2 linked regions of the Homo sapiens genome follow. The protein of the gene in region 1 binds, or shares a complex with, the protein of each later gene. Each region holds a gene or a part of one and is shown in the gene's direction. Other genes may lie near its edges.

What was found. The genes of interacting proteins can lie anywhere in the genome.
Region 2: PPFIA1 (region 1) and PPFIBP1 share a complex: the UniProt entries of both Homo sapiens proteins name them as parts of the cortical microtubule stabilization complex.

Annotation. Positions count from the first base shown.
Region 1 is NC_000011.10:70,322,610-70,326,358, forward strand, and holds part of PPFIA1 (liprin-alpha-1), read left to right. Parts: intron 1-1,792; coding exon 1,793-1,894; intron 1,895-2,198; exon of another isoform or gene 2,199-2,237; coding exon 2,238-2,402; exon of another isoform or gene 2,403-2,518; intron 2,519-2,890; coding exon 2,891-2,965; intron 2,966-3,652; coding exon 3,653-3,749. UniProt on the Homo sapiens protein: May regulate the disassembly of focal adhesions. May localize receptor-like tyrosine phosphatases type 2A at specific sites on the plasma membrane, possibly regulating their interaction with the extracellular environment and their association with substrates.
Region 2 is NC_000012.12:27,674,084-27,677,832, forward strand, and holds part of PPFIBP1 (liprin-beta-1), read left to right. Parts: intron 1-108; coding exon 109-138; intron 139-2,344; coding exon 2,345-2,516; intron 2,517-2,623; coding exon of another isoform or gene 2,624-2,691; exon of another isoform or gene 2,692-2,980; coding exon 2,981-3,013; intron 3,014-3,749. UniProt on the Homo sapiens protein: May regulate the disassembly of focal adhesions. Did not bind receptor-like tyrosine phosphatases type 2A.

The DNA of each region.
Region 1 (3,749 bases):
TGCAAGTATGCACTGAAATACTGAATTGAAGAGCTATTCATGTTCTTTAGCTAATTTTATGGTCTCAGGAGCAGCCTTGTCTCCAAAACTCACTGTATAATATGTTTATAATGTCTATATATATTTAATTGCAATAAAATATACTAAGATAAAACTTGCCAGCTTAAGCAGTTCAGTGAATGCTAGATTCATGTAGTGGAATGTGCTTGTGTCCCCTCCCCACCCCCGCTGTGTTCAGCCTCTGCTGTTACTCCCCAGCCAGGCGCAGCTTTGGATGTGTCCACAGTCACCCTGCTGCTGTCTTCCACTCTCTCTGACCACACTCAGTTCTGAGCCCCACATATGTTTCTGTTGTCTTCAGCAGTGCCCTGGGATAATTAGAAACCAATTCAGTGAAATTGTGGCTAATTCTAAGAAACAGTTTCTGAAGTCATTTTAGGAGATTTGTTCCTACTCTGGAGGGCTCCTGCAGCAAGAATTCTCCAGCTCTCCCTGCTGACTAGCCAGCCGCAGTCCAGGCTGTGCCTCCATTAAACCCACACCTCCAGTTGCCTTCACTAGGACCTCCACTGCTCCTAGGTTTAAAGAGAGTGCCCAGGGTTTAAATGTTAGTGCCCTAACATTTAAAGAGGTTTAAATGTCACCAAACTCGTTTCTCCCTGAATGACGCCCCTGGTCTTATGGCGGCAGCCAGGGCCCTCTCAGCTTGTCACTCCAGCCCTGCAGCTACCGTCTTACAGAGCCAGGGCACAGCTGATCAGGACCCCCAGTATTCTCAGCCTGCCACACTCAAAGTTGAGCCTCCATTCCAGAATGGAGGCTGGACAGAGGTAGGAAGGCCCACTTTGCCCATGACTCCACTAGCCAGGATGCAGCATCAGCACCACGTAGCTGGGGTGGGGTGGAACTGGGGGAGAGGGCACTACATTATCAGCTGCAGCAGTCTGGAACAGAGTCGCTGCCTCACTGACCTGGAAAGGGGAGGCAGGGAGCAGTCTTGGTTCAAATACAACAGACTCTGGCCTTTCTTACTGAATTTTCAGTTGTTTGCTGTGAACCCTTAGAACGATCTCCAGAGTCTCAGAACAGTTGTTTTCTTACAATGTTCACCTGTTTTCCTTGGGAGCAAGCAGGTCAGTGGAGCTTCTTGTGCTGTCATGCTAGAAGTTGATTACCCACAGTAGGGATTCTTGCAGAAGAAATATTACTTTAGAAGAGAGGCTGGGCACGGTGGCTCAAGCCTGTGGTCTCAGCTACTTGGGAGGGTCACTTGAGCTCTGGAGGTCAAAACTGCAGTGAGCCATGGTCACACCATTGCACTCTAGCCTGGGTGACACAATGAGACCCTGTCTCAGAAAGAAAAAGGAAGAAAAGGAGGCTAGGACAGGGGTGGTGGCCTTCTAGGCCATCTTTCCTCTCTCTCCAGCAACTCTAGATCACATGTCTGTGAGTCATTTAAAATGTCTTCATTCAGTTCATGTCAGGATCCTGTTCAGGAAAATGTTTTGGACTTCTCTGGCTGCTGAGAAGGTGGACTTGGATTCCCCTTCTTTCCCTGCTGTCCTTGTCCCAGGGTGCAGGGATAGAGGGAAGTCAGATGGTCTGTCAGTGTTGTGATTTGTTAGGGAATCTGTGTGGTCCATTGATGCCCTCTTTCTCTGGAGGATCACTGAGATCCCTTCCCCATAACTTGTAATGAGGTTGCCTTTGTGTGAAGACTGTGGAGCCTTGATGAAAGGCTTTCTTTAGGGGGTCTTTCTTATTTATTTAATTTTGTTTTGTGATTTTCTAGGAGTTCGCAGCACTTACTAAAGAACTCAATGTATGCAGGGAACAGCTCCTTGAAAGGGAAGAAGAAATTGCTGAACTGAAAGCAGAAAGGAATAACACCAGGGTGAGTGTGACCTTTCTGTTCACTGCCTGCCCCTGGAGCCACTGTCAGGAGGAGGGGCGGTGTGTCAAAACGAAAGGACGACCCACTCTGTCTGGCCTGAAATACTTTTCATACCTTTTCCCACTGAGCAGACTGTGATTAGTCAGCATGATCACACATTAATGGCTTGAAATTTGTGATGAGAATTTATGATATTTTAATACAATTGAGAGGAATTTGTTTTTCTGCGGAATTGAAGGGACTTCATTTTAGTATGAGACTGTAAAGGAGTTATTTGCCCCAGATTCAATCATGAAATTAAAAATGCTGTTTAACAAGTCTTTATTTTGGCCTTTTATTTCAGCTGCTGTTAGAGCATTTGGAATGCCTTGTCTCCAGGCATGAGCGGTCTCTTAGGATGACCGTGGTGAAGAGACAAGCGCAGTCTCCAGCAGGCGTGTCCAGCGAAGTGGAAGTGCTGAAAGCACTGAAGTCCTTATTTGAACACCACAAAGCTCTGGATGAAAAGGTGCCATCAGCCACATAAGTCTTGGTTTGTGCACATGCTGTGTATTAGGCCAGCTTCACAAGTGTTGGTGTAACTTTTGTTTTTTGAAGCTTCTTGAATTCTTGGAAATAACTTCTCTAAGAAGACAGGGTTTTGTAGGTTTAAAAAGTACTAATTGGCTTAAATGTCTTAAAATTACTAATGTATATTGATTTGCTGTTACAAATTGGGTAGTATTAGGTTGTTGCAAAAGTAATTGTGGGCAAAACCTGCAATTACTTTTGCAACAACCTGATATTTCGGGGGAAGATTTATTTTTCTGAAACTTAATTTAGAGCCATTAACAAGTTTTCTTGACAGTAAGATCAATGACAGACATTAATGGTATTTTATTATGTTATATTACACTAATATATACATTAAGTGTATATATTACACTTAACTATATATTAAGAATAAAATAAACAGTATACACACACACACACAAACTCAACCCCTTTTATTTTCAGGTGAGAGAGCGATTACGAGTAGCACTTGAAAGATGTAGTTTGTTAGAAGAGGAATTAGGTGCCACACACAAAGAGGTAAGCTTGAGACTTCATCATGAGTTGAATTGGGGGGGGGTTATTTTTATCCTTTAATTATTAAAAGCAGCATAAGGCCAGACGTGGTGGCTCACACCTGTCATCCCAGCACTTTGGGAGACCGAGGCGGGCGGATCACCTGAGGTCAGGAGTTCCAAGACCAGCCTGACCAACATGGTGAAACCCCATTTCTACTAAAAATACAAAAATTAGCCAGGAGTTGTGGCATGTTCCTTTAGTCCCAGCTGCTCGGGAGGCTGAGACATGAGAATTGCTTGAGCCCAGGAGGTGGAGGTTGCAATGAGCTGAGATTGCACCATTGCACTCCAGCCTGGGTGACAGAGCAAGACTCTGTCTCCAAAAAAAAAAAAAAAAAGTAAAAGAAGTATAAGGACTGTAGTTGTACATATCACATGTTACTTATCTTCCCAATTGAGGACCAGCCTATCTGAGTCATTTTAAGGACTACAAAATGATGGTTACCTAAGGACTCGTCTGGCCAGTGGATAATAAATTCCATCTTCAATGATCTGGTTATTTTCGGATTGGGTAGCATTGCCATATGCTTTCTCTTTTATACTATGTTAAGCAGTTTTTAGTTGTGTTTTTCCAAAAGGAGTTTTGCTATCTTTACTTATTTCTCTTATGTAAGGTATTTTACACTCATATTCAATTTTTTGCTTTCAGCTAATGATTCTTAAAGAACAGAATAATCAGAAAAAAACTCTAACAGATGGAGTGCTGGACATAAACCATGAACAAGAAAATACACCAAGCACGAGTG
Region 2 (3,749 bases), on another chromosome or scaffold:
TAGAAGTAGATATAAAATTATTTTAACTTATGGAGTTGTATGTGACAAATTCAGAATTATACAAAGGATTTCCCTAACAACCTTAAATATTGTTATTGCTTTGAACAGGAAAAGGAAACTATTCAGAAGACTTCAGAGGTAACTTTTTGTCCAAATTACAATGCAAAAATATTTCTACTTCCATTACATGTAAATTGCTTAAATGTCTCCAGTAGATAAAAACTTTCAGAACCTCTAGAACATTATGCTAAATGAAGCCAGACACAAAGTTCACATATTATATGATTCCGTTTATGTGAAACATCCAGAACAGATAAATCTATAGAAATAGAATGCAGATCGGTGGTTACCAGTGGTAAGAGGTGGGAAAAATGGGGAGAAGCTGTTTAAGGGTAAGGGGTTTTGCTTTCGAATGATGGAAATGTTTTGGAAGCAGGTAGAGGTGGTGGTTGCACAACATCGTAACATACTAAATGCCACTGAATTGTGCACTTTAAAATTGTTAATTTTGTTATGAATTTCACTTCAGTAAGTTATTAAAAAACAAAACCATAGTCTCTCAGTCATGCTACTTAATGTTCCTAATGACCATAACTGAGCTTCCTTAGACCTCCCCAAAAGCCCTTCTTAGATTACCATTAGATTATACACCCGGTGCCCATCTAAAGCAAACATTTTGGTATGTTTAAAGATGTCGTCAACATGTGCTCAATTCTTCTTTCCCCTGATTTTTTTTTTTTTTTTTTTTTGAAATGGTATCACTTTGTCGTCCAGGCTGGAGTGCAGTGGTGCAATTATAACTCACTGTAGCCTCGATTTCCTGGGCTCAGGTGATTTTCCCACTTCAGCCTTTCAAGTAGCTGGGATTACAGGCGTGCACCACCATACTCGGCTGTTTTTTTTTTTCGTTTGTTTTTTTTTTTATTTTTTATTTTTTAAGTACAGATGAGATCTTGTCATGTTGCCTAGGCTGATCTTGAACTCCTGAGCTCAAGTAATCCTCCCACCTCTGCCTTTCAAAGTACTGGGATTACAGGCATGAGCCACTGTGCCTGTTCTGTCCTCTGATTTTCTGTCATTAACCTTGTGAAGATTACAGCCTGATAGGCTACCTCCAGATCCAGTCTCTTGACTGTTGGCTCTTAGTGCCTGAGTCATATGTGGATAGAATTGACAAAGCAGCCAGTGGTGACAGCTATAATTAAAATCCTTGTTGTCTTTTCAGTTCAATAAATGGTTAAATGATTTTGACGTCATTGTTGAGCCATGGATGATAATATCACTAAATTGTGCCATCTGTAAACTTTTGGTTTCTATGAGCTGTAGATATATAGAGTAAAATAACCACCTAAAATACCTATATCCCCTCACCCTTTTCTCTGCTTCTGTAAAAAAAGAAGCAGAGGGCAAGAATTATTTCTACTTCTGCAAAAAAAAGAAGCAGAGGGAAAGAATAGAGAAATGAAAACAAGAAGACAAAAGTATCTTTGTATAAAGGACACCCACTTCAATAAATGGTGCTGGGAAAATTAGATATCCATATGTAGAAGAATGAAATTGGACTTCACCTGTCACCAAATCAACAAAAATCAACTCAAGATGGATTAAGAACTTACATATAAGACCAGAAACTATAAAACTGCTAGATGAAAACATAGGGGAAACACTTCATGACATTGATCTAGGCAAAGCATCTTTGTATAAATACTAAAATAATATACTGTGTTACAGCTGGCTCTAATTGCCCATTCAAAGAACCAAAAAGCTCAAAATAAAGTTGCTCACTGTGCCTTCATTTTCTTATTCTTTGAGGAGAATATTTAAAATAACTGGAATAGAATCTCCTTATACTGCTGGTATAGAAGTTTGAACTAATGCCTGCTTTGTAGAATAATTAATATTATATTAGGCTTCTATTGACAAAGTTATAATATAAGAATATGAACTGTATTATAGCTAAATCCGTGACATAATTGTTAGAAAAGTCAGAAATCTGCTGCTATTATTCTGGTTATGTAATGTCTCCATGTCTTTTGAGGAATGAGGCAAACAAAATTTAAGAATTTTTGTATCCTAAATATTTAAAGCCCTAGACATATCGATTCTAGATTAGTGATGAACATGTTTTCCTTGTTGCTTTTGTTGTTGTTTCTTAAGTAGCTTTCAGAATTGATTTTTTTTCAACTTCTGATAAGGCATTTGACATTGGTGATCAATGTATTAGTTCAGTTATTCTTTTGAATAAACTCATGGATGTGGCGTGAGTGAGTATTTGCTGTTAGCCTGGCATGTGCTGAGGATGCTGCACCTGAGAGCTGTTTCACTATTCTTATTTGCCTCTCAGGACAGAGCTCCGGCAGAAAGCAGGCCATTTGGGACCCTTCCTCCCAGGCCCCCAGGGCAGGACACCTCCATGGATGACAACCCCTTCGGCACTCGAAAAGTCAGATCTTCCTTTGGCCGGGGCTTTTTTAAAATCAAAAGTAACAAGAGAACAGCAAGTGCACCAAACTTAGGTACGTATGACCAAAATGCCTTTGCCCTAATTCTTCCACAAGGAGGAAAAGAGCAGTGTCTTCCCTTCCCTTACTCTTTCATTCATTGATTCATTTCTCTTTCTCAGAAACGAAGGTGAATGACTTAGGGGAATTTAGCAAAAAATGCCTCCGTGGATTTAATTTAGTGTTGTGAAGATATATAGACTCTCACCCTGCTCTCTCCTGTGGTATAAACTTAGCGGAAAGACCTAAAATCATGATTCCCTTTGACTTCATCATGGAGTTTCCCATCTGTTGTGATAGTGGATAAATTAACATTGACGTTGAGCCTGTGTGTAACATCAGAAGCACTGTGTGCCGCATGCCTCTCCTCCACGGTGTGTATTTGGCGAGGAGGAGTCTGATCTGCATTTCATTTTGTCATCTCTGTGTTCTCTCCATTGGGCTGCGTGTGATTGTGTGCGTTGTTGGGATATCTGAAGATCGTAAACGAAGTGCCAGTGCACCCACCCTAGGTATTGTACCCCTGCATGCCAGCCTTCACCAGCACTGTGCTCCAAACCAATCTAATCCCTGCTCTTGGCATCTGTGATCTCTAGAAAGCGATCTGACAGCAATCAGAAAATGTAGTTCTCTATTCCGGAGTGTTCTTTCCACCTTCTGCTAAAAAGGACTCTGTAGAGGCTTTGCTTCCAAGCCTAAATGCTGTTTTAACCAATACTAGTAACACTCACTGTGTGAATAGCTTTGAGAGGACCTAGACGTGTGCAGCATCCCTCAGAGTGCAGGGCAGGAATGTCCTGGCATTGTACATTGCAGCTCTTTCAGCCTTGAAGTGCATATTACCACACACTAACTCCCAGGTCCTTGCAGTCCGTTCTCCATGCTTACATTTCCCCCAGCCTCCAAAAAGAAATTTTTTTGGCCATATAGGGAGGTTTATAGAAGACATTGAATATTATAGTTTTAGGCTTACTTCTCTTAGGGGAACATTCTTCTGACGTTTTATTACTTTGAAGATGGAGATAATATTTAGTGATGACAGAAGCAACTTTACTTGATATCTGAGGCGTTACCCCCCAAAGTGATTTTAGAAGAGGGGCAGCTCAGTTTTCCTCTTTGTAAGGCAGGGGACAAATGGGGAAAAAAGTTCTCAAAATAAAAAAGAGAAATATGGTAGTTTTAAGATGAGGATAAGCTAGGCAGCATTTTCAGGGGCACCTGTAGCCATCGTGGTTGAAGGATTTGAAT